2 linked regions of the Homo sapiens genome follow. The protein of the gene in region 2 binds, or shares a complex with, the protein of the main gene of each other region. Each region holds a gene or a part of one and is shown on either strand. Other genes may lie near its edges. A codon is read from its position in the direction of its gene.

Region 1 (15,618 bases), on a different chromosome or scaffold from region 2:
CCAGGCTGGTCTCAAACTTCTGACCTCAGATGATCCACCTGCCTCGGCCTCCCAAGGTGCTGGGATTACCGGCTTGAGCCACCATGCCCGGCCTGCCAAGCACCTTTTATGGAAGGTTTATTTAAGGCAAAAATGCTAGTGTGCTTTTAGGATTCAGCTGAACCTAATTGGAATCAAATAACAGAATTCCTTTATGGGGAACTAACAGAACCAGCAGGAGTCATAAGGCTCAGGGTACAGTCCCTAATAGTAGGCCATTAGATTAACTAGATTCATGTATATGTTCATGTAAGAGCAGTGGTCCCTATACAGTGTGTAGCCATAACACCTTTCTTGAGTACCATTCTTCTCTAATACTGTCATAATTTCTAATATCCACTATGTTAATTACTAAATTCTCTGGCTTTGAGATGAGATAAGGCTTCTTGAGTTGTCTCACTGGAGTAGGGTTTTTGATTACAAGCTTTCCTCATTTACTGATGATTATTTATATCCAGTCTTGGGCTTGCATGTTAACTAAGTGCTCCAGGATGAATGTCAGGAACCTCTCACTCATGTCCTCTAGTCCATTAAAACAAATAATAATTACACTGTTTGTGCCAAAATAACTTAAGGAATTTAAATCGTAACTCTTCTAGACCCTGGAATTGAAACAGATGTTTTACTTTTAATCTCTGTATCCTCATGCCTAGTGCAGTACCTGCTCAGTGAGCCTCAAGAAGTGCCAGAATGTATGTTTGTAATGTCAAGCAGCTAAGTGTTTTGTTCTGTTTGTATTTTTGTTTTTAATGCCGAATTGCAGACTCTTCCAACGAATTATATTAATAATATAGCAAGTTTGCCATAGCTGTCAGAATATCTGTCTTAACAGTGATACTTCCTTGCATGGGCTAGAATGAGGTTGTATAATTCCCTGGGTGGGGATCAAGCTGAGACCTGCTCAGGATCCCCAGTCTCCTTGTGGAGAGAGGTTGCTCTGTCTTCCTCATGAAGTTTGCAGTGGGAGTGGTGTGTGTGATATAAATACAGAGCCCTGCTTGGGAATCTAAGAAAGAGTTGTGCAGTGCTGGTAAGATTATAGCTGAGGTTAACAAATTGTAGATCTCTGTTCTGACAGCAGAGCTAGACAGCTCAAAATATAATGTGTTTCACCAGATGAATTTCTTATTTGTAAAGCATAACTTTATCAATTCTTCACTAAAAGGGAAATGAAAGCTCAGAGAGTACTAAGGCATCATGACATATCTCTAGATTATACTGTCGGGAGCATCATACTTAAGTTGATTTTTAAGTGTATATTTAAGTTTTTTTAATCATGGGCTAGAATTAGAGCCTAATAAGGAAAGTAGTTTGGTGTTAGATTATTAAACAATTCATAATTCTTGGGCCACTTGGAGAGTGATTTGGATCAATGCTATTTCTTCTTCAATAATCTTTCATTGTTTTTCTGTATTTTTCATATTTCTATGAACATGGGAAGAATCTTGGATTTTTAAAAACTTTACATTGATAATTAATATAATTATATTCTGCCTTCCTGTACCGATAATAAAAACTTTGTATTAACATACTCTTCCACACAAGCAGAGTAAAAAGGTTGAAATTGTTGTTGTGTCATATGACAGCGGTTAACAACCAAAGAGCTCTTAAAAATCAGTAGGGGGCCAGGTGTGGTGGCTCACACCTGTAATCCCAGTACTTTGTGAGGCCAGAGTGGGAGGATCACTTGAGACCAGAAGTTCAAGACCAGCCTGAACAACGTAGTGAGAGCCCATCTCTAGAAAACATTAAAAAATTAGCCAGGTGTGGTAGCGTGTACCTGTACTCCCAGCTACTTGGGAGGATTGCTTGATCCCAGATGTTCAAAGTTGCAGTGAACCATGATCACGCCACTGCACTCCAGCCTGGGTGACAGAGTGAGACCCTGTCTCTAAAATAATAATAATAACTCAGTAGGGAAAAGATTAACCCAGTAGAAAAGTGGATAAAGGATATGAGCAAGCAGTTGAAGAATTAAATGGCCAATAAAATATGAAAAATGCTGACTTAAAAATATAAGATGTAATTAAAACATTAGTAAGATAAATGTTACCTATCAAATTGAGCTGTTTTCAAAGATTAAAACTTACTATGCTGGGTTGGCAAATGGTTAAAAAGATGTGTGCACTCATACAAAGCCAGTAGGAATATAAGCTCATGCAATAATTCTGGAGAACATTTCAGCAATCAGAAAGCTTTAAGACCTAATAATTTCACTTATAGTAATTTAATTTTAGGAAAATATCAAGGATTTACAAAGATTAAGCTCCAAAACTATTGTTGATCACAATATTATTATAATAGCATTTTTCTAATTTTTAAGGAAACTATATGCCCTTATATGTCTTTTTAAAATATATATATACCTATCATTTACACTTAGAAATGAATTAGTCAAAAAATTAGTCAGAAATCATTTATAATAAGTCAGCTTTTGACCACTGAGTTGTTTACTGTGATCAAGAAAGCAGCAAGGCTTAAGGAGTTCTTATTCTTTTTTTTTTTTTTTTTTTTGAGACGGAGTCTCGCTCTGTCGCCCAGGCTTGAGTGCAGTGGCGCGATCTCCGCTCACTGCAAGCTCCGCCTCCCGGGTTCACGCCATTCAAGGAGTTCTTATTCTAAATGACTTTATTTCATGACAATCTGTTCTCTGTTCTCTTCTCTCTGTACTCCCTTGGCAATCTGTGGCAGGCACACGGCTTCAGCTATCCCATGCGAAGATGGCTCCTAAATTTACATTTCCAGTCATGACTTTTTTTTGGAGTTCCACACAAGTTTCCAACTGCCCTTTGAACATCCCCACCTGGATGGCCTTCCAGCATGACCTGTTTTCTTCCGTATTTGAACTAGATTTTTGTAGACCCCCAAGGTAGTGATAGTGATGTGTATGTGTGCTTTGGAAGTGGGCAGGGAAGAGACTTAAAAAGATTTAACTGTAGAACTGAAAAATACCATGTGCAGTACAGCAGGTTCTTGAATAACATTATTCTGTTCAGTGTCGTTTTGTTATAATGTTGATGAGGGATAAAGAATCAATTCCTGGCCGAGGCCAATGTCTGTGTGGAGCATGCAAGTTCTCCCCATGTCTGCGAAGTTTTCTTCAGGTGCTCCAGTTTCCTCCCACATCCCAATGTGTGCATCTTTGGGATGTGGACTGACGTATCTGTTATCTTAGTGTGAGTGAATATGGGTGTGTGTGAGTGCACCTTGCAGTAGAATGGCGTCCTGCCCAAGGCTGGCTCCCATCTCGTGCTTTGAGCTCCCAGGATAGGCCCCAGCCACCTGCAACCCTAAAACTGGACTAATGGCATAAATAATTACCTTGTTTTTATTAATCTTTCTTAAATGTGTATATAGCTCACATTTATTTCAAGGTTTACCATTAGAAGTGTTTTGGTCTTTATTTAGAAGTTTGGCAATGTTTTATGACCACAAATATGCTGTAGAAACTTAAGTTGGTTTCATTATACATTGTTTCACATAAAGTTTCCAAGAACCTATCGAGGCTATTAGTGAGGACTTACTGTACATCTTGACATGGGAGAATTGGGCATTAGGCATGAGCATGTGCCACTGCAGCAGGTGGTGGGCCGCTTACGAGTCTGGATTACCAATTTCATCTGAACTCTTGGGTGGACTATATACATGCCTTACTGGAGCAAGGAATTGAAGAAGAATACAGAAGGAAGTTGTTTTTCTCTGCCTCAGTTCATATCCTGCCTCTGCCATTTAGAGTCTCTGACCTTCGGCAATTTTTTTCTTTTCACTCCAGTTTAGTTTTCTGGTCTCTAAAATGGGGGGAGAAATTGTGCCTACCTAAGGTTTGCTGTAAAGAATGACCGAGGTAATCCATGCCTGGCCTATAAGTGATTAGTAAATGTTAGCTGTCAGCCTCTACAAAAGGCATAGTGCTATGTCAAAGCATAGTGCTTTGATAATATAGTTTAATAGGATAAATTTTCAGATAGTAAACCTTTTCCCTTCATTCAGGGTAAAAATAATAGTTCTGTAACCCATCAAAGTTTAGTTCTCTAAGCTTTGTATCCCTGTTTTAAAATAATTCAGCTCAAAAAAGAAAAATAAGTTTCCTGGTTCAGCTTCATATTGAAGCCTTCTAATGCTAGAAATAAATGTCTCTAGATTCCTCAGAGGCATTGCGGACCTCTTCCTTCCTTTTATTCTCAGAGTGAAAAACAAATTTATGCTGTTTCCTATCTTAAGAACATTCTCAATCAGCCAGGCACGGTGTCTCACGCCTGTAGTCCTAGCACTTTGGGAGGCCGAGGCAGGCAGATTGCTTGAGCCCAGGAGGGGAAGACCAGCGTGGGCAACGTCGTGAGACCTTGTCTCTGAAAACGTAAAAAAGAACATCCTTAATCATATATATTTTCATATCAGAAAAGAAAAAAATAGTATTGTTTTGTTTTGTTTATGTATAAATAGGTTTTTCTCGATGGGAAATTGAAACATTTAAAGTTGGTGTCTCTATAAGGTGGCAAATTAGGAATTTACCTCAGAATTATATAGTGGTGGATTGCATTGTTTCTTTTTCAGGCTTTCTGGTTTATAGGGTTATGTTGGTATTTTTCGTGTTATTCTTTTTACAATTATAATCATGAACTGCTGCCTTTCCTGGGGCTGGTATTGGCAAGTTAATTGGGTTGGCAGATCCATGCAGGCCCTGTGGAGCACTCATCCCCTCTCCCTTCTTCCTTTCTCCTCATTTTTCAGTATTCCTGTCACCAGAGCAGAGCACAAGGGACCTAGGGAATGCCAGATAAGACTAAAGTGGTAATGGCCACTTTTAAATAATACATTTAGATGGTGATAATTGAGCTATACTGGGAATTATAGAACTTAACACAATTACATTAAATTTATTAAAACTTTTCTTCAAAACGTGAGATTTAAAACTTTTCTTTACTCTGCCTTTTATTTTTTCAAAGAATCCTCACTTGGAATTCAAATACTGTATAGGAAACAGCTAAGCACTGCCTCTAGTTTAAGGTTGGGGTTAAAACCTGCTTGTTTGGCCTCTTCTCATATCACTTCATTCCCAATTAGTCCCCTACCCCTAGATACCTCCCTAGGGCTCCAGGGCTCTAAGGAAAGAGTTTAGAAGTGAATAATACAAACAGATCCCCGGTTGGGGGATAATCCTGGTGCCCTCAGTTTTGTTCTATTCTGGGATGTCTGGCTCATTTTGACAGTTATCGATAAACTCCTCTCCTACCCGATGCTTGTAATTAAAACTGCTCTTTCACCTAGTGTTTCCATTTTCATGTACAGTGACTCCATTCATTTACTTACCTAGGCTGAAAACCCCGTAGTCATTCTTGACTCTTCTTACTCTCCACTCATTAGCAAATCATGTTGGTTTTCTGCCTTCAGAATACACCCCACTTTGCTACTCTGGGCTCAGCCTCTTTGGTTTCTTGCCCGGAAACTTTAATAGCTAACTTAGTCTTCTCTTTTCACTCTTTGCTTCCTGCAGTCTAGTACAGTGGTTAATTCCATGGGTTCTGGAACCAGATTCCCTGTCATGTGACTTTGCGAATACTAATTAGCCTTTCTAAACCTCAGTTTAGAGGAATGAGGATGAGAACAGTGATACTGTTTACCTCACATGGTTGTGTCAGACAACTTGTTATGCACAAATTACTTAGATAGGACATGGCAAACAGTAAATGTCCCATAAATGTTAGGTGGTAAGAGATATTGAGGTTGTTGTGGTTGTTTTTATTCATACAGACTTGAAACTGATATTCTCAAAACATTAGTCAGATACATTCTCTGTTGGCTTCCTGGCCCTTCTTAGCACAATATCCAAAGGCCTTCCTGTGGCTTACCAAGCCCTGCAGCTCTAGGTTACCTGGTTCCTCTCTGATCACATTGGCCCGTGCTCGCTGTGTTCCAGCCACACTGGCCTGCTGCTCTTTCCTGCCTTGTTCAGCCTTTGAGCACTCATTTTCCCTCTGCCACATTGCTCTCTCTTCAGAGATTTGCCCAACTTGCCGCTCCCTTCATTTAAGTCTAAACCCAAATGTCAACCACTGTTCAAGAATATCATGTCATCTTTCTCTATATACCTAATTTTTTTCATATCTTAAGAAAATACAACTTTTCACTACCTAACATTACATTATATATCTGTTTATTGGCTAATTATGCTGTTAGACCAGATTTCATAGTACAATAGTCCCCTCTTATCTGAGGGCAATACCTTCCGAGACCAAGTGGATGCCTGAAACTGTGGATAGTACCAAATCCTAATATACTATATTTTTTCCTGTACATACATACCTATAATAAAGCTTAATTTATAAAGTAAGAGATTAACAACAACAGTAAAATAGGACAATTATAACAGTATGCCAGCATCGCTACTCTTGCACTTTGGAGCTGTTATTAAATAAAATAAGGTTTCCTTGAACACAAGTACCACGACGATTGCTCTGATGACCTAGAAGGCTACTAAATGACTAATGGGTGGATAGCATCTACAGTGTGGATATGCTGGACAAAGGGATGATTCATCCCAGGCAAAACGGGGCAGGACTGCAAGGTATTTCAGTGCACTACTCAGAATGGTGTGCAATTTATAAACTGTTTATTTCTGGAATTTTCTATTAAATTTTTTGGACTAAGTTGACCAAAGGTAACTGAAATCACAGAAAGCAAAACTTCTTATAAGGAGGGACTATGTAAATGAGTGCAAGGGACCTTTTCTCTTTGGTTCATCGTTTTAGCCCCAGTGCCTTTCATATACATAGTCGATGTTCAAGAGGTATTTGTTAAATGGATATATGGGATGTGATGGGGTGAGTGACTGACAAATATTTTCCCCTTCCTTCTTTACACAAGAGATGCTGAAGTTACCAGATAGTTGGAAAGGCCCAAATTAACTTTTTTGAGATGTAGAGTTCAGGTTTCCCCCTTCTTTCCCATGAATAACAATATATTGTGTAATTCATCATAATTACTTCAGTTAACCACAAATGGAGTAATTGCATTGTTAAATTAGTACCCTCTTACAGTTACTATTCAAGGTAAACTTCTTTCCTGGGTAGCTAGTGACAAGAAAATCATTTGGGCTCATCATTTATTGAGCACTTAAACCCACTAAGCCCATGCCACACTCCTGGTTGTTACCAACCTCCAGTGCTGAAAGAAGGAACTTGTTAAGTCTGTCTGGAATCAGGAAAAACAGAGACATATATAATGTTCTCCAAAAATTCTGCTGCTTATAAAGAGCAGTGAATTCAGAGTGTCTAGGGAAACAGGATTTTTAAATAAGGATTTAGGTTTAAGATGCCTCTTAGTTTCTTAGGGATGGGAAGTGAGTTTTAAAAATTAGCATTTTTCTTTTAATATGATAGTAGAACAATTCGGTTACTGTTTGATAACTTTATACTAATTCATTGACTTTATTATATGAAGAAATAAAGGACTTCAAGAATAGCTCATAACAAACCGGGTGGCGTGGTGGCTCAAGCCTGTAATTCCAGCACTTTGGGAGGCTGAGGCAGGAGGATCACTTGAGGTCAGGAGTTTAAGACCAGCTTGGCCAACATGGTGAAACCCTGTATCTACTAAAAATACAAAAATTAGCCGGGCCTGGCAGCATGCACCTGTAATCCCAGCTACTCGGGAGGCCGAGGCAGGAGAATCGCTTGAACCTGGAAGGTGGAGGCAGTGAGCTGAGATCGTGCCACTGCACTCTAGCCTGGTCAACAGAGCAAGACTCTGTAAAAAAACAAACAAAAACAAGAATAGCTCATAACCTTGAACGTCTTTGTTTGTTTTCTTCATAATTCCTGAGAATTTTTTAAAAAATACCATTACCAATTTCAGTTAATTATCATGTACACCTAGAATATGGAAGTTATTTTGTGCTTTTTATTTTGGGCCTCTTTTCTACCTTTAAGCTTAACATCCAACAGTCTTCTGAACCATATCTTGTTATAATCTGAGCAAATAATTTTCTTTCTGATTGAAAGAGGGTAAACATAAGCTAATTTGTTTAGTCCTTTTTTTAAAAAAAAATCACTGACACTAAATGAGTTAATGTTTGGAGTTTAGTTGACCTCCTAAATTATCCCTATTACAACATAGTAAGACACCATATCTACAAAAAATACAAAAATTAACCAGCCTGGTGACACGTGCTTATAGTCCTAGCTACTTAGGAGGCTGAGGTGGGAGAATCACCTGAGCCCAGGAGGTTGAGGCCGCAGTGAGCCATGATTGCATCACTGCACTCGAACCTGAGCAACAGAGCCAGACCCTGTCTCAAAAAAAAAAAAAATTGGTACCATTCAGAGACAGTGTCAGATGGGGTGTTGACTGGGTTGGTTCACCTATCAGATGGTAAAGTAGGTGTTCTGAGGTGAGCTCAAGGAAGATTGAAATCTCCCATGGAGCAGGACAAAAACGTACTTGATCTTGATTATCTGTATTTATAAAGATTGTCAAAGTAGGACCAAGAAATTTTTCTGATCTTTGGAGTTATCACTGTGAAGCAGAATTCACCAGTCCTTGTTCATCAACCTATCTTGTGTTCCCTATAAATGTTAATGTAGAATAGCCTTATCTTATCTACAAAATATTATTTTTATTAGAAGAATCTAAGTGTAAATCAGTAGCCAAAAATCAGAGATCTGATTTATTAGCTGTTCTCTCTTTTTATTTATACATGGACTTTAATAATCATTATTATCATTATTACAGGCCATGGTTGCTTGTTATCCGGGCAATGGAACGGGTTATGTACGTCATGTTGATAATCCAAATGGAGATGGAAGATGTGTGACATGTATATATTATCTTAATAAAGACTGGGATGCCAAGGTATGCAACTTAATTGAGCATTTATTTTTTTCTTACAGGTGTCTTTTTCTCAAAAGCATTAAGTTTCATACTTCTGATAAGACTGTCACAGACACAGTTAAAAATTTTCCTCTTAAATTTGTTTCAGTCTCAGGTATTAGGAGTGGATTTTTGTAAAATGAAACAAATACTACTCTATGTTATACAACATGATACCTGTAGTTAACAACGTAGTGTTGTGCACTTAAAAATTTAAGAGGGTAGACTCCATGTTCAGTGTTCTAAACACACACACATACACACACACACACACACACACACACGCACACACGAGGTTAGGGGAAGGGAAACGGAACTTTGAGAGGTGATGGATATGTTTATTACCTTGGTTGTGGTGTGTCATGAGGGTGTGCGTATATATCCAAACTCATCAAATTGTAAATGTTAAAGATATGCATTTTTGTATATCAGTTATACCTCAAAACCATATAAAAAAGTACTGATATATCTTAAAAAGTGGATTCATTTATTTTCAGATGTTAGAGCACTTATCTAAAATCTAACTTTTTTAGAAAGGTGACCTTTATTAAAATATTTTCCTTTTAATAGTTTTTAGAAAAACATTTCTGAGAACAGTTGTTTTATAATGGCTTTTGGGGGAGATTATCTATGGATAATTGTTAAGGATTATTTGCTATGTTATTCTTGGCATTTTTGTAAAAATATTATATGGCATTGAGTTGTTTAATTGAATATTGGAGGCAGGATTCAGTCTTTCCCTGATTATTAAAAAACTGGAAGTTTATCAGTACTGACAAGCCCTGTAAAACCAATTAGAATGTACAATATATTTAATCTCTCTTGTTTTAAATATATATTTCCTTAATATTAGCCTGAGTCTCATTAAATTTAAATGATTTTTAAAAAATATGTCATATATTACTACACTAGAGACTGTACAGACTAATTTTTTGGTTGATTTTTTAAAATCTTAAGTATAACATTCAAATAGAAAAGTGGCTTGTATAGTTCAGTGGATTTTCACAAAGTGAACATACCTGTGTAGCCAGGGTGCCTTTTTTTGTTGTTTTTAAGTCAAATAACCTTTAAAAAACCTCTTTCTCTGCATCCCCCAAAACACACAAATGGAAACTGCCTGAGTCTTAAATGTGCAAAAACCTAATCCTGCCCTAAAAAGTGTTTTAAGTTTAGAATATGCTCACAGTGCTTCACTAATCTTTCTAAAACACACTGATTTAAAGAGTTTTCTCTGCCCTAGTCCAGGTTCAAAATGGAGCTGACCTTTCTGCTGAGTATATATTGAGGCATGTCAACAAGCATGGTTTTTCTGTTACAGCTTTCAAAGTTTGAAGTAGAGAAATAAATTTTGTAATTGAATTTGAGCCCAAGGCACAAAACAGATGGGTGTAACTTTAGTTAAAATTTAAAAATTGACTTTTTTTCAGATTTTGTGAATAGCTAGAAAGCTAGAACTGTGTTTCATCAGCTTCTAACTTCTAGATTTTGTTAGGCTTTTTCTAGGCTGATCTTATAATTTCTATAATACTTAGTCAGGGTCATTAATGTGTAGGTTTTAAATTAGGACATAGGCAGAGAAACGTCCCTAGTGTTTTTGTGTGTAGAATAGAAATTTTCCATGCTAGATTGCACTGAATATGTAGTGTGTCAGTTGTTCTGGATGCTAGGGATGTAGCAGAAACGGAATTAGCCCTGGCAGAGCTTAGGATCTATTGGAGGATACAGATCAGAAAGATTGACAGTTACAGATAGTTATGCAAAGTGTCAAGACAGATTGCTATGGAGCACACAGGAGGGCCACCTAATTCAGAGGAGGAAGAGTGGAAGTGTCAAGTAGCCATTTCACTTAAAACATTTTCAGCAGGTCACCTGTGGTACTCCCAATGACTTGAGTCAAAGGGAAGGGAGCAGGAAAAAAGGAAAGAAGACATGTTCTCAGTTTGGAGGTTCTTTAGATGTTTGCATAGTAGCCTGGGGAATCACTCTGAACAACACTGGAACCTGAGGAAGGTTGGCAAGGGTATCAAAGTAGCTAGAATTTAACTTACCTGACAGTGAGCCTGATAAACCTTTTCTTTAACTATAGATTCTAGGTTTAGGCTCAAACGCCATGTTGTCCTGACCAGGTGTTAGAGTTTCTTTAAATTTTAAGAGTCTACCTGCTTAGGAGTGTAGTTATTCAAGAGTAAGGAGCTACTTGGTTGGTTGGGTTTTGCCTATCCCCAGATCGTAAACCCCGCAAGGACAAAGTCTGTCTGCATTATTCCCTACTCTGCACCCAGAGCCCACCACAGTTCCCAGTGCGATTTGATGCCTAGTTGGTGTTTAGGTAAATAATAATCCTTTATGGGTAGAATCAAGTTTCACAAGCAGGTAGTCATCTGTGCATCAGGCCCAGTCTGGAAAGGGAGAGCCACAGGTTCTAATGAACTATATGCTGATGGTGATGGTGACGACGACAATAATGATGGTCATAATAAATGATGACACTTTCTACTGATATACTGAATTATTTAAGTAAGAGGTATTTGTGACTATCCTATTGTTTATTGAATTTTAAAGTATGGTAAACTATTTGACATAATTTATTTCTAATAATAATTTTGTCAAAATTTCTTGAAATCTATCTATTTGAAGGGTGGGTTAAGCAAATCATTAACATACAAAAATAAACGTTTAGTAGTTTTAAAAGCTTTCAAGCATCATTTTAAGACTTTTAAATTCAGATAACATTCTTGTGTTTCATCAGATATTTATAAAAATCCCTAAAATGGCTGGGGACAGTGGCTCACACCTGTAATACCAGCACTTTGGGAGGCCGAGGTGGGCAGATCACCTGAGGTCAGGAGTTCGAGTCCAGCCTGGCCAACATGGTGAAAACCCATCTCTACTAAAAATGCAAAAATTAGCTGGACATGGTGGCGCATGCCTGTAATCCCAGCTACTCGCGATGCTGAGACAGGAGAATTGCTTGAACCTAGGAGGCGGAGGTTGCAGTGAGCTGAGATTGTGCCACTGCACTCCAGCCTGGGTGACAGCGAGACTCCATCTCAATAAATAAATAAATATCCCTAAAATAAGAACTAAATTTGTCCTTGCATCAGTGCATATACTTTTAAAATTGCAGCTCATCTTCATACTTTATTGAGACGTATTTGTGAATAATCCAATTAAGACATTGAAATTGTCTCTTTTTTTCCCCCTAAATTTAATCTTGTAGCATTTTTGGTTACTCCTGCTTACATATTTGGCTCTTTTCCTAGGTAAGTGGAGGTATACTTCGAATTTTTCCAGAAGGCAAAGCCCAGTTTGCTGACATTGAACCCAAATTTGATAGACTGCTGTTTTTCTGGTCTGACCGTCGCAACCCTCATGAAGTACAACCAGCATATGCTACAAGGTAGTATTCCTTTTCAGAAAAAATTGGTTTAGAGTATGGTAGGACAGGAGGGAATCTGTAGAGTAAACGTGAAAGCTTTCTAATGAGTATTTTCCTGCCAGGTACTTTTCACAGTCATTTTAATTTGAATAATTGTATAAGATTTATGTTGCACAGTCATCTGAATTCAAATAATTATATAAGACTCATTAACAGTTAGTACTAAATGTGTCTTTCTTTGCACAGCCACTCTGAAGAAAGGGAAGCACAGGCCTTCCCATCTTTCTAGCACTCTCTCCGTGCTTTGTGCATCTCTTAACTACTATCCATGCTTTGATTTTTGTAAGAGTATTTTACTTGGGAGAGAGAAAGATCAAGAAGGAAAAGGGTTTTTTAAAAGGTGGTGAGGGACAACATAGGAAAATGGATACAGAGTAGAAAAATCAGAGGTAACCAGAGAGTAGAAGTGAAGAGAAAAACAGAAGAAAGAAAAGTAGAGAACAGGTTACCATGTGTGGGAGTTAATGTTAGAAAAATGATCCTATTAGCTTTACAAATAATGAGCATCTGTTTCATTATACTTTTTCTACAAGGTATTTGCAACCTATTATATTTAGTGCTTTATTTCAAATGCTTTTTTAAAAACCATTTATCCTGACTCAATTAAAATGCTCTGGCTGTGAAAACAAGATATTGTAGACATTATCATGAAAGTAAATATTTGTAGAAAAATAGCACATTAAAAAAAAATACTTATTTTTTATTATGGAAAGGTCTTGGAACATTCTGATAGTGAGCTTCCGGCATTCATTTGCTGTATCTGGCTTAGGAGATGCTAGGGTGGCAAGAAGAGGCACAGGCTTAGATGCGCTGGGTGGAGAGTTGGCTTTAGTAATGATGGTTGACTCTAACGACTTGATTATCAGCTGTGCCTTTTTTCTTCCTGCCTTCTGAGGTGTGTTGCCTGCATCCTAATTCACGTACTGAGTAGCAAGCTAAGCAGGTTGTAGCTGGAGATTGTAAGAAATCCTGAATGGAAACCAAAGAAAGACTGTCACATCACATGATGTGCCCTTTTCAATCCCATGTCTCTTCCCAGTGGCATCCCAGTGCTGTCTCTGCCCCCTGCTGCTTCTGTAAAGATTTTCTGACACAGTAACTGCCTCATAGACCTTCCTTTTTATGAAATCCTGAGTTTGGTTTGGTTACGTCCTTTTTAGATGAATAAATAACAGATACTTGGGAGTTTATAGTAAATAAATGCCAGATGGCATGGAGGCTAAGTGCTACAGGAGTTGAGGAACGAAGGTGGTGCTACATTGGAGAGACGGGCAAGTGCGCTTTGAAGGGAGAGGCTCAGCTGGCCTAGGTGAGGAGAGGCAAGGGGTGCAGTCGTGTTAGTAAAGTTCTGGGGGAAAAGGCGTAGTTGTTCAAGTTAAGGCATGGAAAATCATGCGACGAAAAGGATTCTTGAAGTAGAATCCTATTCTGATCTTATCTAGAATGGGTGATAAGGCTGGAAAGTTAGAATGACATAAGGTAAGTTGTTGATCCAGATATTAGAATTCTGATTGCTAAGTGACTAAAAGTTTAGGGCATGGGCAAAAGATACATAAAATTATGTATCTGAGCCCTTTCCTATTTCCAAGGCCACCCAAAAGTAGAAGAAGCCACATGGTAAGAAAGGTAGTGGAACTCTGGAAAGAGCAGAGTCTGGTCTGGAAGTCAGGAGACCTCCTTAGACCTCAGCTCTGTGATTCACCAGTGGTGGGGTCTGTAAACGTCAGGCTCCCAGTTGTCCAAACTCCCAGACTCTTTACTTCAAAATACATTATGTGATTTTTCATTCTGTCATATTACTGGCTGTATGTCTGATAAATGTTGCCTTTTCCCCTGTGTCCACTGGCCACAATCCACAATATATTTGAACTAATTGCTATATTCTGCCCAGGAACTGGTGATTTGTAGCGTACTTTCACTTCCTATAGCGTTTATACATTTTCCCCATTATTTGTATCAGAAAGTATGTCTTTTGTAGTATTTAATAAACTAGAGATGCCTCACTTATTGGTGGAATGAAATATTCTAAGTCAGATTTTCAGAAAAATGAAGTTTAGACAAAGTTTAAACACAAAACACAGTATAATTGCTTTGATTAAAATCCTTAAAAATTCTTAGCATAATTTAACTGTCAAGGTTATAATTGTAAACATCCATCATTACTCTTTGCTATAATGTAGTGATGTCCCCAGAGACTGTTGAAACTGTTAGCCTGCAATGCCCTGAGTCCTTTTATCTGTTTCTTTTCTGTTCTTTTAGTACTTGTGCTATTGATAATGTGCTTTTTCTGTAACAGCCATTCTTTTACCCTTTTATTGTCTCTCTTTTTTTTTAGAGGGAGGCTCACTCTGTCACCTAGGCTGGAGTGCAGTGGCATGATCTCGGCTCACTGCAACCTCCGCCTCCCCGGGTTCAAGCGATTCTCCTGCCTCTCAGCCTCCTGAGTAGCTAGGGCTACAGGCATGTGCCACCATGCACGGCTAATTTTTTTTTTCTTTTTTTTAGTAGAGATGGGGTTTCACCCTATTGGCCAGGTTGGTCTCGAAGTCCTGACTTCATGATCCACCCACTTCGGCCTCCCGAAGTGCTGGGATTACAGGCGTGAGCCACTGTGCCCGGCCTATTGTCTCTTTCTGATCTGCAGTTCCCTTGCAAAAAATAAGTAGTTGAAATAAGTATTAAGAAAGTCACAAAAACTCATCAACTTCAGACATCAATTTTAGTCTCCCCTGGTTACTGTATAAATAAGCTGTTAAATTTATCCTTTGATATCATTCCAGTTTAGGCATAATTTTGGCATTACAAGTTTTAATATACCATTGCAGCAAAATACCACTTTTTCCCCGCAGTGTGATCATTCTTATCCTATTCTAAATTTTCTTTTAGGTACGCAATAACTGTTTGGTATTTTGATGCAGATGAGAGAGCACGAGCTAAAGTAAAATATCTAACAGGTAAACGTCATTTGGGGCCAGGATATATTGGTACAGAAATACCCTGCAATCAGGTGATGCTTTCAGGAAACTCAAGCATAGTCTTTGTTAACACCATGAATACTTACTTTTTGTTTTTTATCAGATTTCTTATTTGCCTCATTTTTTAAGAAGACATAAGTCATCTTCACTGTTATCTTTAACCAAAAAAATTGTCAAAGGATGTGGAAAATTTGAGGCAAAGAAGTCTGAGTAAATTATTCACATACAAACTGAGTTTTCTGTGATTATCCTTTTCAGTCAAAGGCCACTTAACTCTAGGTAACGGCCATATGGTTT
Region 2 (15,915 bases):
GTGTGTGCTTATGTGTGTGTTGGGGAGGGGGGCGGTTATTACCTGAAATGCTACTCAGAGCTTATCTTTTGCTTCAAAATATTAGATTTCTACAGAAAAGCATGTAGGCTGTCAGCTCTTTATATTTTCTTTCTTTTCTTTCTTTCTTTGACGTTGTCTCGCTCTGTCACCCACGCTGGAGTGCAGTGGCACGATCTCGGCTCACTGCAACCTCCGCCTCCCGGGTTCAAGCGATTCTCCTGCCTCAGCCTCTTGAGTAGCTGGGACTACAGGCATACGCCACCACGCCTGGCTAATTTTTTGTATTTTTAGTAGAGATGGGGTTTCACCATATTGGCCAGGCTGGTCTCAAACTCCTGACCTCGTGATCTGCCTGCCTCGGCCTCTCAAAGTGCTGGGATTACAGGCATGAGTTACCACGCCCAACCCCTTATATTTTTACTTAAGCTTCCTTGTATCTCTTTTTTTTTTTTTTTTTTTTTTTTCCTAATCAGACTAAGCAACTTGATGACCAGGACCATATCCCCTATTTCTTAGTATTCTCTTCAGCATTTTAGCCAGAGTAGGAGTCGGTGTTGAATACAAGTTTGTCATCTTATGGATTATATCTTAGGGTGAATATCAGAGCTGGTGTCCATCATGTGAACAGGCAGCATGGTACTGGTGGGGAGAGGGGTGGAAGTACAGAGTACTAGGGCCCCAGGAGCTAATATTGCTAACTTGACAATATTGGTAAAAGCTAGACCTGTTAAGAACTACCAGCAATGGTTAGTACTGAAAGCAAAAGGGAAGATTCATCAGGCTAAAATAAAAAGGGAAACTAGCAGGTTGGCATAGGGCAGAACCAAGGAAAACAAAACAAAACCCCCAAAAAACTACTAGATTTCCTGAAAAGTGGAAAAGCCTAAATCTCAAGACAATTAATGACAGCAAGTATTTTCAAATGTAGGAGCCTAAAATCCTGGAGCACTGAGAATTATCTAATTGTTTCCTTCCATTTCTAAACACTTTACTTAATAAATTCCTAGAAAGTTGAGAATCACCACTGCCCCCCCCCCCGACGCACGGGCACACACACACACACACACACACACACACACAGAGAGAAAGAGGGACATTCTAAGTAAATTAAACTGTTTAGTCTCACAGTTTTCACTCCTAGTGAAAATGCCAACTAACCCAGTACAAAAATCAATCTAGCAGCTGCTTGAATGTTCTCTACCTCAAAAAGCAATCTGCTCCACTGAGGAGCGGTCCTTGCATTGGTTTTGTTTAATGAGGTCTACCTATATAAGTAGATTTTTTTCTAACTAAAACAATGAATTCATACTTCTCAAAGTTTACAGACACTGGGAACAGCATCAATTCAACTCTGCTTCCTTTTTTTTTTTTTTTCAAAAAGCAAACAGAATCATCACTTCTACTGCAGCCTAAAGGTGTTGATAATTATCCAGAAAAGCAAATCTCCTTTCTATAAGGTTCAGCGGTTTGAGAGTTGTGATGGGGAAGGCACTCCTTCGGAAATCATCCTCACTATCTAGAGATATTTCAGGGCTGGGGTACTCTCCTGTGAACAATAGGAAAATACATACTTAATTGAAAGTAATAAACCAGGGTTCTGACTTTTTTTTTTTTTTTTTTCTTTGAGACGGAATTTCACTCTTGCCCAGGCTGGAGTGCAGCAGCGCTATCTCCGCTCACTGCAGCCTCTACCTCCCGGGTTCAAGCAATTCTCCTGCCTCAGCCTCCAGAATAGCTGGGATTACAGGCACCCACCACCACGCCCGGCTAATTTTTTTGTGTTTTTAATAGAGACGGGGTTTCACCATGTTGACCAGGCTGGTCTTGAACTCCTGACCTCAGGTGATCCGCAGCCTCAGCCTCCCAAAGTGCTGGGATTACAGGCATGAGCCACCGCGACCAGCCCTGACTCTTATCAGCACTAATTTTCCTTGTGACCGGAGAAGTCTTTTAACCTCTCTCGGCATCAGTTTCCTTATCCAGAAAGAGAAAAGTCTGACTAGATGATTTCCATGGTCTCTTATAAAATAATTCTAGGCTCCCTATAAGCACCACTGAAAAAAACTTGAAATGATGGCATTCTTTTGAACTTCATGAAAACTGTATGAATTAAAACTTAAATACTCAAGCCAACAATGTGTTACATCAATTCTGTATCATCCTGCGCTGCTGGTAATACAATGGAAACATATCAAGTGTGGAGGGAATATTTATTTAAAATATATGTTTAAATTGAGAGAAACTGTCCAGCAATATTTTTTCCCTTCAGAGTTGGAATAATGATGGAGTTTGATTTGATTTTAGAAGAGGAACAACTAAGTCCAGCTGTCAGAAGGAGGGGGAGATTGGAGATCCAGGTGTCTCCAATTCCCCTTCCACGCTAGCCCTGTACTGAGCACTACTGTATAAGCACTCTGGGAAGGTGTCTGGACCTAGGTCTGGCTTTGGGACTGGACTTTGATCCCTGATTATCCAAGGATCTCATTTACATTTGCCTGAACCACTCCTCAAACCCCGTGAATCCCAGAATTTCCACATTTTTTTCCCAGTGAAAGGACTCAGGCATTCCTGATAGATGCGTGCACAAAAAGGTGAGTGAAAGTGCAGTACCCCCACCCACCAGGCTTCAGTTTCTGACATCTGTGATGTCACCGCAAATGCCCACTACCACCAAAACTGGTACTATCAAGGACACCCAGCCAACTAACATTTAGAAAGCAAACTCTTTATTATTAAACATTAACATATTTATCGACGTGTGAACATTCTGGGACAAAATCATCTGCCCACTTCTTGACGGGCCATTGTTAGAACGAATATTCCAAATGTTCTGCCCATATTGCATTTGGGGGAAGAAACTGCTCTGCTAAACCAAAGAAACACAAAATGTAAGAACTAGTGGGCAGAATCATCAGCAGAGAGCCCCCTCACTGTCACATCGCCCTTGTGAGGCACTCAGAAAAGCTACAGCAGTCACTTACATGACAACACCAACTTTCAATGTATTGGTTCACATATTTTAATTACATCTTGGTCCCTAAAGAAGCCTGCAGCCAGCAAACAGACCCAGGCACGAAAAGTAAATGAGTCTCAAACTGATTAGCCCAATAGGAATTGGACAACCCCTTAAGGGGCTCTAGATGGTGAAGGACACGCTGTTTGCCCTGCCATTCTGCAGCACAAAAATCCAGGCAGGTCGAAGAGGGCGGACACCCTCGCGTGGCCACCAGCCCGGAGCCGCAGCTCACACAGCGGCCTCCAAGGCGTTTCGCAGGCAGTCCCCACAGTGGTTCTTAAAGCGGCCGCTCTCGCCAATAATTGGGAGTCTAATTACGCAACGTTCTTCCCGCTCCCATTCCCGCTTCTTCTCTCTTTCCAACAGTCCGCTAACGAACCAGGTACTGTAGCTGGGTGTGTCGAAATCATTTTTCCCCTGCTCCCAAGTTTCTCGGTATATACGGTACAAAACTGCACAAAACCCGGCGCTAAGGAGCGCAGGAGGAGCTGACACTTCACACATTTGTCAAGATTACTGTCAGGCCCCACCTCGGCGATTGCCACATTCCCGATAGGCATCGCAGTTGTAAAATACACAAGTTCCCTCCCCGGCTCCGGACCCGAAAGCGTCTGCAGGCGCTGTCTATAACTTTGCTTTTCGATGGTTCAGTCATTATTAGCATTATGATTGGTTTTTACAAAACGCACTGGAATCTTAAGAGTCTTTTCCTTGCTCTGCTGCCTTCAAAAGACATGGAACCCCAGGACTGCTCCGAGGGCCCTGGGAATGTGCCGGCTGCAGTCTCAGGGCTCCCTCACTTGTCTTGGGTCTGAGGGCGCGACGGTGACGAGAAAGGGGGGACTACGGCCAGGAAAGGGGAGCAGGGCCCAATCCCCTCCCCTAGCGATCCCGCAGTGAAGGGCCCGGGCGCCGAGCCAGGACAGGCGCGATTCGCTCCCGTTTATCAAATCCTTATCGGTGCCCCGAGGTGGGAACCGCTGCTTTCGACCGGAGGATACACGGTTTCTGGCTCCAGTCCCGTAGTGGAAGTTGGAACAAGAGCAAATCAACCTCGGCAGTGAGCCCTCCCGGCCAGTCACCTCCCTCCCTTAGCGAGTCGGTCCTCCTCATCCTCGCACCTCTATACCGCCGCTCCGCCGCTGGTTTCCCGCGGCTCAGGCGGTTCAGCCGGCCGCGCGTTGGATTCCAGCTTCCCGCAGCATAGCCTCGCCAAGCCGCGGCCAAGCGCGGGGCTGGAAGCTCCAGGCCACTGGGGCCGCACGGGTGGAGACAGGAGGAGAAAGGGGACAGGCGGCGAGCCGCACACATTTGCAGAAGTTGAGGCCCTGCCTGCTTCTGCGCGGCCGCGCAGAGGGCTCGAACCCTCGCTCGGGTAGCGCCGGGCCCGGCTGGACTGGGAGCGGCCGGGAGAGGGCGAGAGGGCAGCAAGAAATGGCCAGAGTTGCCTCTCACCCAGTGCCGAGAGGCTCGCGAGGGCAGGCGGGCAGATCGTGGCTGCCCTTCTCTGTCCTCTTCGGAGACAGACACCCGGACCTGCCAGGGACATCCAGTGTTGCCGTCCGCTTCCTACACACCGAACCATCTGCCCCCGCAGGGCAATCCAGGTCACTCACTACCTACTCTCCCCAGAGTCAAGGTGCGGCACGAGGAAGTGGGTTCTCCAACCTTCGGTGGGGTCTGGAGCCCGGCAGCGGGGCGCTCTGAAGGGTCCTGGCTCCTCGGTAGGATCGTGTCCCTGAGCCGCTCTCCGCCTCCCGCCCCCCTTTGCCCACTTGGGCCGCGGCGCGGGCACAGGAGCGCATTTGGAAGGACTCCGCGAATCCAGAGAAAAATAGAGACGTGGATGCTGCCCCAAAATGAGAGACCAGAGAAAGTCGAGGACATGCACCCACAAACATTTCCAAGCGCCGGTGGCCACGGTAATCTGCTGCGGGGCGGCTGGGAGATTTTCAAAGGCACCGCGGAAGCACCTCCGACCTCCAGGCCATCTCCCTCGGCCTCCTGGCCTCGCCGTGCGCGCAAATCCCCGACTCCTCCGAGCCGCAGAAGTCTCCACTGCAAAGCTGCTGATCCGCGCCCCCAAACCGGGCACATGCTCTCCCCCTCACAGCCCTCCAAACCGAGCCTCGAGCTCCGAAGACCTCTCAGCACTCTTCTCCCAACCACTCTCGGTCGCGCCTGCCCCGCGCAGCCCGGCCCTGGCCTCGGACCGGCCCCCTGATCGGCCCGGACGCCCGCTTACCTTTTCTTCTCCTTGTCAGCTGTCATTGTCGCTGTGGCCCTTTGAGACGTTCAGACGCCGAGCACCTGGGCTCCCTGGCGGGTGGGGGGCTGTGGCCCTCGTCCGCTCCCCGCGGCCCGGGCGGGTGGTGAAGGTCCGAGGTGCGCGCAGGTCCCGAGCGCCCCGCGCAGTCAGGTGGAAGGTGGCGCGCGGCGGGCTAGGTGCGGGGGCGGGGGTGGAGAAAGGTGACTGGGAGGAACCTGCGCGCGGAGGCGGGGTCCGGGGAAGGAGTGGGTGGAGGCTGTCAGACCCGAAAAGAGGACGGAGAGAAGGGAACCCAAGTTCCTTTTTCCCTGGAAAAGGAGTCACTTTTCTGAGTTTTCAAAGAAAAAAAAAAGTGGCTCGAATGCTGGGAGTCGGAAGGAGTCGGAGGCCGGGCTGAGCTGACCATACAGTCTCAGGACACTGCCGAGGATTGTACGGCCGCCTCAGGAGCGCTGGGGCGGAAGCGCAGCGGGCACCGGACCCGTGTGGCGGTCCGCTCGCGAGTGTAAAGCTCCCGCGGCCGGCAGCCCACTTTAAAAACTCCGTCGGCCGGCTTGGGGCGGGCACGGGGCGGGCGCGGAGGGCGGGGGGCGGGCACCGGCGCGGGTGTGTGGGCGGGCACGCGCCGGCAGGCCCCGCCCGCGCCGAGCTCCGGGCGGCTCACTGCGTCCCGGCCAATGGGGACGCGCGGCCGCAGCCTCTGCCCTGACCCTGGCCCGCCTCCTGCCCCCGCGCTGCGCCCCGCCTCCTGCCTCCGCACTTCGAGGACTTGTTTATGAGGTCGTCTGGGCGGCGGGTAGCGGGGTGGGACTCCGCGTCGGGGAGAGGCAGCCTGCGCAGGGCCGAGGGGCGGCCGGGAGCCGGGCTCCGGGATTGCTGCGGGGGACGGCAGTTGCGCCACAGCGTCGGTGTCCTCGTACCGGCGCCGTGCCCTTGGAACGAGGGCAGGACCGCGGGCAGCGCCGGGCCAGCGCGGAGCCCCTCCACGCTGCTGCGCTCCTGCGTCCCTGGCCCTCGGGCCAGGTGGGGATAATTTCTCGGCCCCCAGCGGCTGCGTTTCGGGCGTGGGCGATGCGCCCTTTTCGGTGGGACGCAGCTGACTTGACCGTCTGGGAGAAGCAGTGCAAGGAAATTGATCTAGGGCTGCGCCTACTCTTCCTTCCCTCTCCCAGCAGGGTGGTTGCTTACCGGCTTGTGCCAGGCGGTTTGGTTTTGGCGGGGATGCGGCAGAGGAGGCCCTTTGAGCCGCCCGAGGCCGGGGCGAGTTCAGAATTGGAGAAGTCAGTCTGGTTCCCCAGTGTGATCTTGGAGTGACAAGAGTTGGCCATGTGCCCTCAAGTCACTGCATCTCAGGCCTGCCCTCTCTGCCGCCAGGGTCGATGGAAGTCCTGGGAAACCCAAAGGCTACAGGTGTTGGAAATTTGTAGATTTAAGGGCTCACACAGGCAACGGTTAGCGCTCAGGGATTTTCCAGCGGCGCTTTTGACGCTGCCTTCCATCTCCGGGCCCAGTGCTCCCCTGCCCCGCGCTGAGCTGTCTCCCACTCGCTACCGGCGATGGGGAAGGGACATCTGGGGAGAGGACAGGGGACGCCCTTAGTTTTTGAAGGCTGTGGAAGGACCCATGAGTTTCACAGGTGTAACTTGAAGTTGGAAAGCGAGGGCCAAAGAACTGGTCTATATCTCTCCCTTTAGCCTCTTGCCACATTTTATACTAGAACGATCTACAGAAGCGATTTGAAGAGAAGGGTAGGTTTCAGCGCCATAATAAAAATGAACACGTGTTTTCCCCGTGTACACAGAAAGGGTTGGGGGAGATACTTTTCAGGAGCCTGGAGAAGGCGAAGTGGGGAGAGGGCAAAAACTGACGAAGAATTGGGAAATACTTTTTTTTTTTTTTTGAGACTGAGTCCCACTCTGTCGCCCAGGCTGGAGTGCTGTGGCCCCATCTCGACTCACTGCAACCTCCGCTTCCCGCGATTCTTGTGGCTCAGCCTCCGGAGTAACTGGAATTAAAGGCGCCCACCACCACCCTCAGCTAATTTTTGTATTTTTAGTAGAGACGGGAGTTTTACCATGTTGGCCAGGCTGGTCTCAAACTCCTGACCTCAAGTGATCTGCCCAACTTGGCCTCTCAAAGTATTGGGATTACAGGCGTGAGTCACTGTGCCCGGCCGGGAAGTAGACGTATTTTGTCATTTTCTCAGATCTCGGGGCACGGAGCACCTATACAGGTTGATAGTCAACGAATTCAAAGATTGCAAATCTCTCTCTAGCGAACTATTTCATGGGGCTGGTGGGTTTCAGGAACGGGGTGATTTGGTACTGGGCTTCTCCAGCCAGCCATTTCTAGTGGACACATTTATGTATTTTAATGAGTTCAAATTGGTAGATAGTTCTCCCTTAACCATAGGCTTATTTCCCTCACTTGGGACTAGAGTGCGGGAAAAGGGCACCTTGGTGGCTTCCAGGTGCCTACAGTAGTTCACCACAACAGCCTCTGAGTCCTGGACTGTGCTTGACAGATCGAGGCAACACCTCCAACCCATAGAGAACATAGCCTTTTAGATCTTGTTTTTAAAGAGGAAAGGCAAGGAGGGGTCACTCAAGACCACATCAACCTAAGAAGACATGGACACATGGGAGGAACAGCACAGACTGGGGCGTGTCAGAGGGTGAGGGGTGGGAGGAGGGAGAGCATCAGGAACAATAGCTAACGGATGCTGGGCTTAATACCTAGGTGATGGGATGATCTGTGCAGTGGACCACCATGGTACACATTTACCTATGTAACAAACCTGCACATCCTGCACATGTACCCCTGAGCTTAAATGTTAGAAATTCCATCAACCATGTTATATAGCTCCTTCCTCTTGGCCAGACTGCACCCTATAAGTGAAGGATCCCCAGGCTAACACAAACAGCTGGCATTGAGTCTGGGATTTTTTTTTTTTCTTTAGACAATCTCACTCTGTTGCGCAGGTTGGAGCGGAGTGGCACGATCTTGGCGCACTGCAACCTCCACGTCCCGGGTTCAAGCTATTCCCCTGCCTCAGCCTCCCAAGTAGCTAGGACTACAGATGTGCACCACCATGCCCGGCTAATTTTTGTATTTTTAGTAGAGATGGAGTTTTGCCATGTTGGCCAGGCTGGTCTGGAACTCCTGGCCTCATGTGATCCACCCACCTGGGCTTCCCAGAGTGCTGGGATTATACGCATAAGCCACCGCACCTTGCCAAGTCCGGGATTTTGGCAGTGTCTGAGATACACCAAAAACTCATTATAATAACTCTCAAAAGGGTTGCACCCAGCCTTGCTTAGAGCAGAGCCGGGTGGCCTGAGATTTCTTCCAGGACTCAGCTCAATAACCTTTGCAGGAAGGAGCTGAGAGTGTAAACCAGATGCAGGCTGTGGCTAGGGTGCATCCAATTTTACTTTTTAGAGCCTGTGGAGAACTAGAGGAGAAAAACTTTGAAAGGTGATGCTGGGGCAGTGAGTGGGGGATGGGGAGCTGGGTCCCCGGATTCAGAGGGGTGTCTTTAGAGACACTGATGTTGTGGCCACAGAGGGCAGCAGAGGACACCGGTAGGCAAAGCTCCCAAGCTGCTTAAAATAGGAGCAAACTGCCCACCTCCCAGCAAATCTCCCTACCTGCCCCCCAACCCTGTATTGGATGGTTTGGGAACAAAAGCTGTGGCACCAGTGAAACACCTATTTGTTTTGACAAGGGACAAATCTGATTCTCTTGCTTCCTCTTTTCTTTGTAGGGTGTGCCCTCAGGAGGATGGGATAGAGATAAAGTGTGAACTTACAAACCTGGCAGAGAGCAGGCACCTGGGATGCAGTGGGCTGGTGGAAGAAAGATGGCCTCAGTACTCCCATCGAAGTAACAGTATGTTCCAGGATGCAGTTGGAAATTAGGTTGGAATGGATGGGATCTAACAGGAACAGCTCTTGGAAGGATGGGCTATCTCATTAGTACCTTACAACTTCCAATGCATTGTCACATATTGGAGTTGGGACCAGGGTGAGGCAAAAGAGGCCTTTAAGAGTCATGCAAGTACACTGGCCTCTGTCCTGCCACATGCCTTATCTCACGTAATACCCATCTGACCCTTGTCTGGCTATTTAGTTGGTTTCGGGGTGGAGAGAGCAGGGGAGGTAAGGAGCAGAGATGGGAGAGAGGACAAGCTGGCAGAGACTCTTTCTCTATGAAAAGCCTTGCCTGAGTCACTCCTTCCCTCACACTTGCATGTTACTCCATCCAAACGAAACCAGCCCCTTTTGTGACTTCACAAAATCTATACTCACACTCCCTGTCACTGAACTCCAGGTCCAGAAAACTATGCCCCCTGTGTTTGGCTTTAGGCCAATGTCGTGAGATATTCCACACAGACATGTGCTGTATCTTCTTTTAAATGTTGTGACTTTTGACCCCACAAATCTAGAATTTGTCATCTTTCAAAAAGAGTTCTGTGATTTCTTTTTTTTTTTTTTTTTTTTTTTGAGGCAAGAGTCAAACTTTTTTTCCTCCTTGAATTCCTAAGTGCTTGCTGGTAAGAAGGATGCAGTTTTAAAGAACCCCAGCTTCTCCATTCCTCACACCTGTATACTGATGACTTGGAGACTAACATCTTCCATTGCTAGGCTTAGGAATGAAGTTTTGCCTCTGAAGGGAGTTGTGCATTTGTAACTGTCATTCAACCAATGGTGAAAGAGTCACTGGTCCAGGGCCAATGTGCTCTGCTGCCTCCGGGAAAGCATAAGACATCAGTCTGTGGAAGAGGGCACTGGTGGTTTCCTTCCCTCCAAGAGGACATAGTTCAGTTGGGTACATACTGCATTTCCCAGATTTTGAATACACACGTTTTAAGGCTTCCAAAATCAGGTATCTTTTGACATGGTAATTCCTTTTCCTCCCCCAATTTTTAATTTGGTAAATATGTACAATTTATATGCTCTTAACATTTTTAAATTTGAAAATCGAGAGCAAAATCTTATAGCCTAAACAACAGGAGTGGTAAGAATTTGGTGGTGGTGAACAACCAGAAAATCTGGAGTCCCAGCCATGTCCACTGCTAGGACCCAGAGAAGCCTAGCCTGGACTGGCCCAGCTGCCGGGCTGATGAGTGTGACCTCTGAGGTGATAAAATAACACCCATGTGGGAGGAATGGCCAATAAGAAGGACATGCCAGCCCCACCTTAGAAAAAGGCATGAGTAGAAATGAAGGTGCTATATCACTAAAAATGATGACATTGGGCCCCAAGCATCCGATTTTCTCTGGCACCTGGCTAAGACAGGCATAGAGGACAGGGCCGGTTGGGGTGTAGTCAGAGACACCCTCCCTATTCTGTGGCATTGCTTTGGCCTGTAGCAAAGTGTTAAAATGGGACTCTTCCTACTTCAGTTTCAACTGAGTTCCCAAGACAATCAATGCCAGCTACTCCCACTTCCAAAATGCGGAACACAAGAGCTCCTTGAAAATGATTTTGTGTACCTTCTCCAGCCACTGTCCACCTCAAGGAAAGTGCATGGATTGATACAGAAGAGGACTCAAAGTTGGAGTTCTAGGATTGAGTTGTCAACATTGTGATCAGTTTTCCTCCCCATACCATGGAGAGAGGACATGCCTTGCTCCTGTCTCTTAAGTCCAGTGACTAGGGCTTACCTGAGACCACACACAGAGCTTGATATCTGTCCCTGGAGCTTGTGGAACACAGGAGACTGCCCACTGGTGAGCAGCTGGCTGAAGAGGCCTATTGTAGAGGACATTTCCATTTGGAAGTCACTCCCTCTTGCCTATATCATGGCAAGGGAGTGTGTGGCAGATTGAGTTTCCTGGAAGATGACTCTGAGGGGGAAGATTAGCATGAGGAAGGTTTATTAGAGTGCTCTTGGGATAGCACCCAGAGGAGGAAAGGAGAAGAAGCAGGATCAGAGAGAAGTGGACCCCCACTGCCCGGATCTGAAGCTGGGATGGCCCTTCAGAGTTGTCCCAAGGCAGAGTCAAGGGGCCTTTCTACCCCTGCCATAGATTGGTCATTGTTCCTGGCTGACCTTGGGGAAAGGCTGTGACCTTGAGCAACAGCATCTGGGGGAATGTGTCCTTCATTCCTAAGGGGAGATCTGGGCAGGGATCACAGGGTCCAGTATGGCATATGGCATGCAGGTACCAGATGTGGAAACTGCAAGAAGAATAACCACCTAGGGCCAGGCACAGTGGCTCACATCTGTAATCCCAGCACTTTGGGAGGCTGAGGCAGGCAGATAACTTGAGGTCAGGAGTTCGAGACCAGCCTGGCCAACATGGTGAAACCCTGTTTCTACTAAAAATACAAAAATCAGCCAGACATGGTGGTGGGTGCCTGTAATCCCAGCTACTCAGGAGGCTGAAGCAGGAGAATCACTTGAACCTGGGAGGCAGAGGTTGCAGTGAGCCGAGATCACACCACTGCACTCCAGCCTGGGCAACAGAGACTCCACCTCAAAAAAAAAAAAAAAAAAAGAATAACCACCTAGAATTAAAGGAAAAAAAAATTTAGAGATGAGGGTCTTGCTATGTTGCCCAGGCTGGAGTGCAGTGGCTATTCACAGGTGTGATCATGGCACATTGTAGCCTTGAACTCCTGGGCTCAAGAACTTCTCCTGCTTCAGCCTCCCAAGTAGCCACTGTGCCCAGCAATTTTTAAGGGGACTCTGTCCACATGGGCTTCTTCAAAAAGACCTTGGCAGAAAAAGGTGGAGGCCCAACTGGAGATAGAGGCTGAAGGAGGACCATAAGTGACCAGCTGAAGGAGAGGCCCCTTTGGACTCTTGAAGACTGCAGTCCCAGGGGACCAAGAGGGTTCCATACAAGGTGACAAAGGTACCAAAGAGGGAAGCACCAGCCATGGCCAGGGAAGGTCAAAGAGATACTTCATCCATGCTAGAAACAAAGGATGGAAGGAGGATGGAAGGAGGGAGAAAAAGAAGGAGGGAGGAAGGAAGGGAAGGATCAAGGGAAGGAGAGAAGGAAGGAAGGAAGGAAGGCAGACAGAGAGGCATCTCCTACTCCTTGTTTTTTATTCTCCCTCCTACTCTACAGGGGCCAAGGTGAGGCTAGTAAGGGGATGGGGTAGAGGTGCTAAATGGGAAAATGTCTTGGCGTCCTCAATGCCTAGCAGGGAACCTGGCATAAAATGGACACTCAAAAAATAATATACGAAGAATGAGGAAAATCTTTGCCCCTTTATGATTCCCAGTGACTGTGTAAGGGCCTTCTATATCTGCATCATTCTGGGGACTGAATGTGGGTCCTTCCAAAGTCATGGTGTTATAGAACAGTGATACAGGGGTGATGTCTAAAGCACACACTGAAGTATCCCCAGACGCACCTGCACATACACACATGTACATGCTCATGTACCTACCTGGTGCCAAGCTCAGAAATAGGGTTCTACACAAACCTCACTGGAAACTTTTCATTTCTCTTCAGTGCATACCTCAGTCTTTGCCCTTTGAAGAAAACCAGGGATGCAATGCTGAGAATGTGACTGTAAATACTTCAGATTTTAAACTCCGAGGATTTTCTCTTGGTCTCCTCAGAGGGTTGTAGTCTGTGGTGTATGGATCCTGGGGTTTCAAGGCCATCTGGCCCCTGTGTGCTCAATGATCTACCCCAGTGGAAGGAAGACGAGAAACAGACATTTCAAAACCTTTAGGCAATGGGTCTTGGCCTGAGACAGAGTTTCACTTTGTCGCCCAGGCTGGAGTGCAGTGGCGCAATCTCCACTCACTGCAACCTCCGCCTCCTGGGTTCAAGTGATTCTTGTGCCTCAGCCTCTTGAGTAGCAGGGATTACAGGCACGCACCACCATACCTGGCTAACTTTTTGTATTTTTAGTAGAGGCAGGGTTTCACCATGTTGGCCAGGCTGGTCTCGAAATCTTGGCCTCAAGTGATCCACCCACCTCAGCCTCCCAAAGTGCTGGGATTACAGATGTGAGCCGCCGCACCCAGCCAGCATGCCCTATCTTAATTGTTAATTTTCTATGATAGCAGATTAGCTCTCCTAATTACTTCTATCTTAGGCTAGATTAAAATGCATCCTGATCAGATAGTAATTTATGGTGAAGAGATGCCTTCTGGCCTAAAAACATGCCAGGGGTAAATCTCTAAGTAGATGACCTCAAGGCAGAGAACCCAGAGTGCACTGTGTATGAAAGAATTACGGAGTGAAGTTCATGTGCCCAAGGTTTTAAAGAATAATTAAGAGCCTAATTATAAGAGTACTGAAAAGAGCCATACACAATTCCAAGTTAGCTTTGCCTGTTAAGAGTAGAAAGCTCATTTTATAAGTAATAAAACGATGGTGTTTACACAATGCAGCTTTCCAATTTCCTTTTCAAATTCCACTGTGCTTGAGGCACCATCCCCTTTGACTGCATGCATTCTGATCTTTGTTGAATTAATTTCATCTAGTAATTCTTCTACTCATTGGCATCTATTGACTGTCCAGTCCATATGCATGGATGTGGTTGAAACTCAGCTGAGAAAGATGAATGACACACGGCTCTACCCTCTAAAGCTCACTCTCTCCTATTGGAGACAGACTTCTAAACAAAATACTACACCTCCAAAGAGAAAACCCCATTTTTCTGGGAGCTCAGAATGGGAAATGACTCTGCCTGGGGATGGAGGTGGGAGGGAGGAGAACTTAGGGAAGGCTTCTAGAAAAGGTGACATTTTGGCTGCAGCTTGAGGGGTGACCAGGAGTTTGCTAGTTAGAACAGGGAAGGAAGAGCATTCTGGGTTGAGAATTGGGACAGAGTCTTCTCTGATAATTCGCAAAGCAAATGTCAGGTCATACAGGAGCAACTCAAAAGACCTTTTGCAGAGATTTAGTTATTATTGCCCATGCTAGACTATCAACTGCTTCTGACTTTGTGCAGTACTTAGACCACCTAAGTTAGTGCCTGATAGGGTATTTTGAGGATGACAGTAATGCCTATGCTAGAGATGAGTGGGATATGACCCTCATCTTTTAGTCATGACATTCCAGCTCTCCTACCTTGGGTTTGTTCCTAATAATTAAGTGGCCATCACAGCAGTAGTGAGTATTCTTCTGCAAACTCCAGGAGCATCTGTGGAACCGAGTGCAGATGCCTTTGACCTGTGCAGCAGTTGACTCAGGTTACCAGGCACCTTTTTCAAGTTCTTCCCAAGAAGATGTATCTTTCTTGTTCAGCCTAATTTTTATAAAACTTTAATGTTCTCTTAAAACTGAAATTTTGCACAGTAGGCATTAGCATCAGAGCAACATTCCCATGAGTTCTGGAATCTCCTGGAGTACATTACTCTAAGCAAAGAGCCAATTATTGCAGCCCTGAAGTTGGAGGGGACACTGATTAGTATCTGTGGCCTAGAAGTACAGATGGATGGCTGTGGAGGCCACAGCATCTTGAGGATTTTTTTTTTTTTGAAACGGAGTCTCATTCTGTCGCCCAGGCTGGAGTATAGTGGCGTGATCTCTGCTCAACGCAGAGGATGTTAAATGGAGTCAAAAGCAAATCAGACTCCCTCATGGCCCAACTCAGGAGTTATTCTTAGGCATAGGGAACATTAGAGAGACCTCTAGAGTTGGGAAGAGTGGGCCTAGTGGGGAGTCCTTGGGCCCTGCAAGTTTCCACTCAATTTCTCACCCTGGGCACTGCCTCCACCTGTTCTCTGTACCTATTCCTTCTCTTCTATTTCTCCTCTACAATTCTTCTTTTATTTCCCCATTCCTCTTTCTCGTAAATATATCTTTTTTTTCCCAGAAGTTTCTACTGAGTTTGAAGGTTTCAATGACCATGTTGATTACAGAGATAGGAAGGCTATTTCCATCACTGTCTTTGGATGAGAGACAGCAGAGGCTCCTCTCTGCAGGCCTGGCCAGACTGCTTATGAGGAGCTGGAGGGAAAGATGAACGGCTTTAAGTCACTCAGGCCAGTACCCAAGAACCCAACACTGTGCTGGGCCTTGGGGTGGTTCTGGGGTAGCGTGAGGGTAAGGAATGCTAGAGAGGTATGGCAGAGAGAACCCGAGAGAAGGCGTTAGGACATGCAATGAGGTCCCATTTCCCACTGATTCCTAACTTTATTTTTCTGCCAAATTAAAGGAAACATATCTTCCTCATATGGTGGAGAAGTAACTGAGACATAAGATAAGAAAAGTCTAAAGCCCAATATAAATATAAGGGTTTGAACTCATCTGACCTGGGTCTGTGTGGGCTAAGCTGCTCCAAGCTGGGCTAGACATGGGATAGGAAGCAGTTTAACTTGCCCTTTTCTCCTGTGGGCCTAGAAGTCCCTGGATTAGATGATGCTGTGGAGCCCACTGTGGGAGAAGGGGAGGGGAGAAGAGCATGGCTTGAAGTCTGAATCCTGGAGCCCAGGTTCAGGTCTCCATCAACCTGAACAACATCTCTGAGTCCCCACTTCCTCATCTGCAAGATGAGAATTCTAATTCCACCTCACACACTTAGGGATAGAATCAAATGCAATACTAAGCCCAAAGTCACTGTATAAAGTACAATACAAATGTGGTTATTAATATCCTATCATTAATATCTTGGTGTTTCTTATAGC

Evidence for each region.
Region 1: the proteins of EPAS1 (region 2) and EGLN1 are in contact, whole or in part, in a crystal structure (PDB 7Q5X), measured with the Homo sapiens proteins. Residues at the interface, in NP_001421.2 of Homo sapiens: Asp525, Leu526, Glu527, Thr528, Leu529, Ala530, Pro531, Tyr532, Ile533, Pro534, Met535, Asp536, Gly537, Glu538, Asp539, Phe540, Gln541, Leu542; in NP_071334.1 of Homo sapiens: Gln239, Leu240, Val241, Ser242, Lys244, Ile251, Arg252, Trp258, Asp277, Ile280, Arg281, Ile292, Asn293, Gly294, Arg295, Thr296, Lys297, Tyr310 (codon at 8,806), Val311 (codon at 8,809), Arg312 (codon at 8,812), His313 (codon at 8,815), Val314 (codon at 8,818), Asp315 (codon at 8,821), Pro317 (codon at 8,827), Asn318 (codon at 8,830), Asp320 (codon at 8,836), Arg322 (codon at 8,842), Arg370 (codon at 12,267), Trp389, Tyr390.

The regions. Positions count from the first base shown.
Region 1 is NC_000001.11:231,367,251-231,382,868, reverse strand, and holds part of EGLN1 (egl nine homolog 1), read left to right. Parts: intron 1-8,769; coding exon 8,770-8,889; intron 8,890-12,170; coding exon 12,171-12,307; intron 12,308-13,025; exon of another isoform or gene 13,026-13,315; intron 13,316-15,232; coding exon 15,233-15,300; exon of another isoform or gene 15,301-15,302; intron 15,303-15,618. UniProt on the Homo sapiens protein: Cellular oxygen sensor that catalyzes, under normoxic conditions, the post-translational formation of 4-hydroxyproline in hypoxia-inducible factor (HIF) alpha proteins.
Region 2 is NC_000002.12:46,287,305-46,303,219, reverse strand, and holds the start of EPAS1 (endothelial PAS domain-containing protein 1), read right to left. Parts: upstream 5,814-15,915; 5' UTR 5,309-5,813; coding exon 5,283-5,308; intron 1-5,282.